Homo sapiens: one gene and its partner. The protein of the gene in region 1 interacts with the protein of each later gene in a pairwise test. Each region holds a gene or a part of one and is shown on either strand. Other genes may lie near its edges. The genes, in order: PIP4P1 and RILPL1.

The links.
Region 2: the proteins of PIP4P1 (region 1) and RILPL1 interact in binary tests that used the Homo sapiens proteins (3 or more experiments, as listed by UniProt).

The regions. Positions count from the first base shown.
Region 1 is NC_000014.9:20,458,503-20,462,761, forward strand, and holds the start of PIP4P1 (type 1 phosphatidylinositol 4,5-bisphosphate 4-phosphatase), read right to left. Parts: upstream 2,933-4,259; 5' UTR 2,824-2,932; coding exon 2,682-2,823; coding exon of another isoform or gene 2,661-2,681; intron 2,344-2,660; coding exon 2,153-2,343; intron 1,797-2,152; coding exon 1,690-1,796; intron 1,232-1,689; coding exon 1,126-1,231; intron 939-1,125; coding exon 886-938; intron 795-885; coding exon 704-794; intron 201-703; coding exon 57-200; 3' UTR 1-56. UniProt on the Homo sapiens protein: Catalyzes the hydrolysis of phosphatidylinositol-4,5-bisphosphate (PtdIns-4,5-P2) to phosphatidylinositol-4-phosphate (PtdIns-4-P).
Region 2 is NC_000012.12:123,495,678-123,499,487, reverse strand, and holds part of RILPL1 (RILP-like protein 1), read left to right. Parts: coding exon 1-70; intron 71-722; coding exon 723-944; intron 945-3,810. UniProt on the Homo sapiens protein: Plays a role in the regulation of cell shape and polarity. Plays a role in cellular protein transport, including protein transport away from primary cilia.

The DNA of each region.
Region 1 (4,259 bases):
GTAGTGTCACTGTCCCCACCAGGGAGGGGCCAGGCACAGTCTGTGGGTCATCAGGCTCAGGAGAAGTTCTGGACAGGGTGGCTGACCTTCATACAGGCCCAATAAAGAGCCCGGCCCAAACACAGCACAGCCAACAGGATGACAAATGCCCAGGCTGCATAGATGCCTCCATATCGCCGTGCATGCTTCCATGTGCCAAACTGATGAAGATAAGGAGGGAGAAGAAAAGAAAGATGGGGTTAATGTTGGTCTCCACTACCTCCTATTAGTTCTAAGAACAGTAATAACTCACGCTTCAGTCCTTGTTCCTTATCCACATGTAGCCACCCTCAGGGACCTTCTTAAAGGCAGAGCTGATCAGCTTCCTTCCCTTAGGCGTAACATACTCATCCCATCCCACACTGTATCTCAGTTTTTCTTAATATCTGACAACTGAGCCAGGTTTGAAAAATAGCAACTCTTAAATTAAGAATTTCACTGTCCTATCCTCATCCTACAGAGAAAGGAAGGCTGTTTTTCACTCTTGTAGTAGTAATAAAGTCTGTTTGATCAGCCACTTTGCACTTTAGCTCATCCATATCTTAAAACAAAACAAACTAGTCCCCCAAGTTTCTTCCACTTTTTTTTAGGGTAGCAGTTTCCCAAATCTTAGCCTATGGAGATGAGGCTGCAGAATGAAAGAGGTTGGGGCAAGGGTACTCACGGCAAGGCCAGTGGCAGTGACTGCCAAAAGCAAGCCAAGCAAGAAGCAGCAGATACATCTCTTACGTGGGTATCTGCGCCCAATAGATGACCTGTGGGGAGGCAAATAGAAATGGATGCTTTCTATGGCCTTGTAGTTTTTACTCCATACATCAATTACCAGCTCAATCCCTAATCACTTACACTTTCCTGCAGTGAGGACAACGTGCCAAAGTGCGGTCTGTGAACTCTGTCCACTATGGAGAAAGAAAACAAAAATAATAGCACAAGCAGGGTCTCCCTCAATGAGAACCTTGGGGTGGGGATGCAGAACATGTTCCCATAGGACAGACCTTTCAGGGGTCATTACCATTACTCTAAGAAATATACTCGAAATGACTCTTAGTCTCCTTTCCCCTCCCCTTCCCAATACCCCTTCCTCACCAGAAAAGTATTCTTGCAATGTCCACAGATAACCCTGACACCCATGGGTTGGGGTTCTGGACTCAGAGGTCCGGGATGCACAGGCCCCAGGTTGATGATTCTTTTGCTATACAAAAGAAAAAGACTTGTATTTTCAAACTTGTGTTTGAAAAATTTTTAATCCTAAAAATCTTCACAGTCCCTGTTCCACATCCCCCACTCCCTGTCTATTAAGTCACTCGACTTCTCTGTACTTAAGATACTCTGTCCCCCAACTGTATACCCTCAAGAATCCTTGAGAAAGAAAGAGCACTGTTTAAACTTCAGGTCCCCAATTCCCCTCCGACCTCAGGATAACACACCCAGTCCCCAAGGCTCTCTATTCTCCGAAACGACATCATTTCATCTCAATATTTTTATTGAGAAACGAGAAAGACAGCTATAACATTCCTGAGGCACATGCTTCAAAGCCTTTTCTCCTAAATAAACACTAGGCTCTCTCACCTTTACATTCTCTGTATACGCTCATCCTTTTTTGACTTTCCAGTTCCCCACTTAGGCCCTTCCCCACCTTATGCCTCTTACCAGTAGGGCCGAGGGCATGCAATCCGTTGGGATGTCACTTTGCAGATAAGGAGACAGTTACAGGGGCATCGAACATATTTTTTCCCTGGGGGTGCATTCTTGATTGGCTAGAGAATAATAGGGTCATCAGCAAGCAAACCTCTAATCCCAATCCCCTCCACTTCCCTCCAAAAACACTTTATGAGATCAGAAAAATAAGGTGCTAACCAGGAAGGAGAAATAAAAGAAAGACTATATCATGAGATTTGCAAATAGGAACTAGGCTAGGTGTAAAAGTGAGAGAAAGTGAACATTAGCTTTGGTGAGTGGCTTCTGGGGAAATGGCTGTGTGAGACACCTGGAACTGAAACCTGGGTATCATCAAAAGCACTTGGCTAATAGCCGGAAGGTCAGGGTCTAGAACCAAGACATCAGAAAGAGGATCCAGGAAACAGGGCCCATTTCATAGATATGTGTAACTCACGGTGGCTTCATTGCAGACACCACATTTGACTACATGCTGATGCATCTTGCCTTCCACGTTGATGAGAGATTGGCAGACTCGGCAGGTGATCATAGGGGCACTCCCACTGTCCGGGCTAGTTAAGGGTGAATAGGGGGGTGGGTCCTCCCCAGGCAACACGGCTGGATGCCCCTCGGGAAACGGGGGAAATGCTGGAGAGGAAGCAAATAGAAGGGCTGGGATCACTTACACCCCCACTGATGCTCCACGGTGGTAGGGAAGTCCTTCTGATCTTCAACCCTCTGACCAAGCTCGGAGGGCTTCTCATAATTGGCACTTCTATCAGGTTGCTCAGAACCCCCTTCCGTCCCTAGGCTGTGGTCGCGATTACGGAGGGAAGGAAGCCTCGCCCAGTCACAGGTGCAGCAGTCCCGCACCTGGCGACTGGGACCCGCCTCCGCCCTCGGTCCCGCCCCCTCCCCGGCTTTCAGAGTACCCCGGGGAGCACCTCGGACCCGCCCCGGCTTACCCTGGGGCGGGGCATGTTTACCGGCTCCGTACGGTGGTGCGGAGGGGGTCAGGCCTCCCCCGGGCCCAGCCCCACTCCCGCCGGGCCCCACTAAACCGTTGCCGCCCGCGCCACCGTCGATGGGCTCAGACAGCAGCGGGGAACGCTCTCCATCTGCCGCCATGGCCGCCACCGCCGCCTCCCGCTCAGGTCGGCGATCCGGCTCCCTTCGCCTCTGCCGTCGCCGCAGCCACCGCCACCGCCGCCACCGCCACCGCCGCTACCGGGTCCCCAGGGCGCCTGCGCGCCGCGCGCCCAGCTCACTCCGCAACCAGTGGCCTGCCCCGCCCCGTTCCGTCTAGCAGCACGTGATAGGCTATCCCCGCCCGGGTCATGCTATTATTCGCGTAGATAAACCAATTCCTGGTCCTGTGAAGGCAGCTCTCCTTTTCCATTGGGGAGCGACGCACAAACGTCAACTGTCACATGACCTGCCAGATGCTGCTGGGCTTGCAAAACCTGCACGTGACTAGAGGTTCTGCAAGCTATTGGGAGCGACGCCCATCGCGCTACCTCCAGACCAGGAGGTAGGGCTAGGCTGCGTCTGCTCAACTGGTCACGTGTTTCTGGAAGCTGCACGGTCCCTGTTGCTCTGCTCCTCATTGGTTCAAAGACACCACTAAAACACTTTTCTCCGGCTTTGCGTTGTAGCTGGTTTCCTATTGGCTGGTGACTTTACTTCTTTCGTCCTGTGATCCTAGCGGCGCAACTGCATTGGCCCGAACTTAGCGCCAGAACATGGGGGGCGTGGCTTATGCATTTTAAAGGAGGCTGGGCGGGTGCAATAAAGGAGTGCGGAAGCTTGGGATCTTCTGAGCGGGGAGAAAATGGACGGTGGGGAACAGTAGACAAAGTTAGCTGTTCTACTCAAAGAAGTACCTTTAAAAAGTCAGAGTAATGAGGTACCAGAAGGAAATGGATTAAAAAGTTAAGATTATCACTCCAGCCTTTGTCGCTAGAGTCACTTTCAGGACAGGACACAAGACTGGGTTTTCCTGGAAGCTGTCCTTACAGAGCCCCGTCTTTCCCCATTGCTGATCAAATTGTTAAATTATCTTTTCATTAGTGTCTCCACTACTAGAAGATTTCATCGTTTTACTAAAAAAAAAAAAAAAAAAATTCAATAGAGATGGGGTCTTGCCTATGCTGGACTCAAACTCCTGAGTTTGATCTCCTGCCTAAGCCTTCCCAGTAGCTGGGACTACAGGGACAAGCCACCGTGCCTTTACTCAGTTTTATGACCACCAACCTTTAACATACGCACAAGTTTGTAGATTGGATTAATCAAATACAAGGTTATTTTCGTCACCTTATTTGACAGATGGGACAGTCTTTAGGCCTGTCTCAACTTTGCTTCCAGCAAAGGGGCAGTGCCTCCTCCCCTACCTGAAGTCTCGTGTGGTCTTTATGGGCGCCTGAACCACACCTGGATTTTTTCCCAAGTCATAGCCCAAACTGGGACTGCTTTAAATATGGGAAGCAACAAGGAATTGATAAAAACAATAAACCCCGAGGAGGTCCATTATCAGTTTGGCTAGCAGACTCTCCACTAAGAAAGGA
Region 2 (3,810 bases), on another chromosome or scaffold:
GGACAAACAACGCGACGAGATCCGCGCCAAGGACAGGGAGCTGGGCCTGAAAAATGAGGACGTTGAGGCTGTGAGTGACACACCCCTGACCTGCGTCCACCCTCCCAGCCAGTAGGTGCCAGCCAGAGACCAGACCCTCCACTCAGCAGGCCCCTTCTCTCCCTCACTCTCATTCTTGGGGCTCCGTGGGGTGTGGATCCTGCTCATGGCTTGGCGGGCCCAGCCTGGAAACTTCAAGTCTTCACTGGCAGAGCAGGAGGAAACGTGGCACTGCCCGGTGAGCAGGCTCCTCCCGCCTCCTGGGAAGGTCCCGAGGCCTGGGCAGACTTTGCTCTGACCCCAAGGCCTCCTCCAGCCCCACCACTTCATGCCTCTCTGTGAGCAGACTTAGCAGGGTCCAGCGTGCTCCAGGAACCCATACAGTGTCTCTGTGTAAATCAGAAAAAAATGCCCCTTTCTGAAGGCATGTTACTTCCATTTGTTGGGAAATTTTCATAATGTATTAATTCTAGCAAGACACCCTTCCATCTGCCATAAAATTATCATAGAAAATACACAAATTGCCCATCTCTAGCATCATCAGCTATAAGAATACGAACAACTTTCAAACAAAGATGTCTGCAATGTAAATGGCACACCTATGGATGGTTTGCCGTTGTGCAGTGTACAACCTGAGCTACCGCAGGTGGCAGCCCCGCACAATGGTCTCCCTTTTTCTACAGTTACAGCAGCAGCAGACACGGCTGATGAAGATCAACCATGACCTTCGGCACCGGGTCACGGTGGTGGAGGCCCAGGGGAAAGCCCTGATCGAACAGAAGGTGGAGCTGGAGGCAGACCTGCAGACCAAGGAGCAGGAGATGGGCAGCCTGCGAGCAGAGCTGGGGAAGTTGCGAGAGAGGCTGCAGGGGGAGCACAGCCAGAATGGGGAGGAGGAGCCTGAGGTGAGCAGGAAGCTGGGTGCAGAGGTGGTAGCAGAGGGTCAGTCTGGGGGTTGGCTTAAGGCAGGCAGGGTTGCCTTGTTTTCCCCATTATACTTCAGAAAATGGCCAACCTGGGCAACATAGCAAGACCCCAATTCTCTACAAACATTTTTTTTAATTAGCCACGCGTGGTGGTGCACACCTGTAGTACCAGCTGCCTGCCTGGGAGGCTTAGGCAGGAGGATCACTTGAGCCCAGGAGTTCAAGGCTGCAATGAGCCATGATTGCACAACTGCGCTGCAGCCTGGGTAACAGAGCCAGACCTGTCTAAAAAAAAAAGAGAGAGAGAGAGAGAGAAAAAACGAGAGGCTCAGAGAGAACAAGCTACTGGCCTGAGGACACACAGCTGAGGGGTTGGAACCCCAGACTCCCAGCATTCTCCCATCTCAGTGATGGTTATTAGGCACCTGCCATTTATTTATTCATTCATACCAATGATTGTTGACTGTGTAGCCGGCCCAGAGGATAAAATAGCGAGCAAAATACAGACATGATCCCTGTCCACATGGAGCTTACAGTTTAGTATGGGAGGCAGACATTAGTTAGTCCAGACCTTAATCATTAATCACACAGTACCATATGACCCAGCAATTCCACTCCTAGGCACATATCCAAAAGAATTGAGAGCAGGTGTTCAAACTTTTACATGAAGGCCAGGTGTGGTCACCTGCACTTGTAATCCCAGCCCTTTGAGAGGCTGAGGCAAGGGGATCAAGAAGATCACTTGAGGCCAGGAGCTCAAGACTGGCCTGGGCAACATAGCGAGGTCCTATCTCTACAAAAAATTCTTTAAAAATTAAAAACTTGCTTTTGGGCTGGGTATGGTGGCTCACACCTGTAATCCCAGCACTTTGGGAGGCTGAGGTGGGCAGATGACTTGAGGTCAGGAGTTCAGGATCAGCCTGGCCAACATGGTAAAACCCCGTCTCTACTAAAAAAAAATACAAAATTAGCTGGGTGTGGTGGTGGGCATCTGTTATCCCAGCTACTTGGGAGGCTGAGGCAGGAGAATTGCTTGAACCTCGGAGGCAGAGGTTGCAGTGAGCTGAGATTGCACCACCGCACTCCAGCCTGGGCAACAGAGTGAGTCAGACCCCATCTCAAAAAACAAAAAAAGAAAATCTTAGGTATGGTGGCATATGCCTGTAGTCCCAGTTACTTGGGAAGATGAGGCAGGAGGATCACTTGAGCCCAGGAGTTTGAGGATGCAGTGAGCCATGATTGAGCCATTGCTCTCCAGCCTGGGCAACAGAGTGAGACCCTATAGCAGCACTATTCACAGTCGCCAAAAGGTGGAAACAACCCACATGTCCATCAGCAGATGAATGGGTGAACAGTGGTCTCTCCATACAGGGGGATATGATTCAGCTCTAAAGAGGAATGCAGCCCTGGCCACGCGGCAGCACGGATGAGCTGCAAAAACATCACGCGGAGTGAAAGAAGCCAGGCCCAAAAGGCCAGTGTGTGACTCCATTTGCACGAAATGTCCCAGAACAGGCAAATCCATAGAGCCAGAAAGTAGACTGGTGTCCGAATGGGGCTGGGGGAGGGAGGAATGGGGAGTGACTGCCGATGGGCATGGAGTTCCCTTTGGGGACGATGGAAATGATCCGGAATTAGAGAGCGGTGATGGTCGCACAACACTGTGCATGTTACTGTCCGCGTGGCCAGAGCTGTCCATCACAGCTGCAGCTAACATCCAGGTAGGCCCAGGGCTACAAAGTGGGCACTAGCGGTGTCTGTTCCTTAAATGTGCCCCCAGACTGTGCCAGGAACACAGAGGGTGAGATCGTTCATCCTGGCAGAGGTGGGGAGGTGGGGTTTCAGGGAAGAGCTGTTCCTGAAGCCGGGCGTCAGTGTTAACAATGCTGAGACTTTGACAGATAGAAATGTGGACAATGGAGATGCTGTTTCAGAAAAGTATAGTGAACTTTAGGGACACACTCAGGCTTGTGTTTTCTCCCAGCAGATGTTTATGAGCTGTTGAAAGTTTGCAGACGCTGCACTAGTAACCTGAGTTACAGGTAGGGGAGGTAGGACAGACAAGCTCACAGTCAGGTGGGTTCAAGTCCCAGTAGTCATTAGGTATCCTGTGAATTTGGTAGTTACTTCCAGGTTTGCTGTAGGACAGGACAGGCATCTGGGATACAAATGAGGAAGGTCAGGGAGAGAAGTCTTAAAAGGGAGTAGTTGCCAGGCATGGTGGCTCACACCTGTAATCCCAGCACTTTGGGAGACCGAGGCAGGCAGATCACTTGAGGTCAGGAGTTCGAGACCAGCCTGGCCAATATGGTGAAGCCCCATCTCTACTAAAAATACAAAAATTAGCTGGGCGTGGTGGTGCACACCTGTAGTCCCAATTACTTTGGGGGGCTGGGACAGGAGAATTGCTTGAACCCGGGACGTGGAGGTTGTGGTGAACTGAGATCACGCCACTGCACTCCAGCCTGGGCGACAGGGGTGAGACTCTGTCTCAAAAAAAGAAAAAAGAAAAAAAAAGGAGTGGTTAAGGGCTGCTTTTGGCTAAAAATGACATAAGCCTAAGTTAAAATGGTTTAAGAGTTGGGAGGCCAAGGCAGGCCGATTTCCTGAGCTCAGGAGTTCAAGACCAGCCTGGCTAACGTGGCGAAACCCCGTCTCTACTAAAATACAAAAAATTAGCCAGGCATGGTGGTGTGCGCCTGTAGTCCCAGCTACTCGGGAGGCTGAGGCAGAAGAATTGCTTGAACCCAGGAGGCGGAGGTTGCCGTTAGCTGAGATCGCACCACTGCACTCCAGCCTGGGCAACGGAGCGAGACTCTGTCTCAAAAAAAAAAAAAAAAAAAAA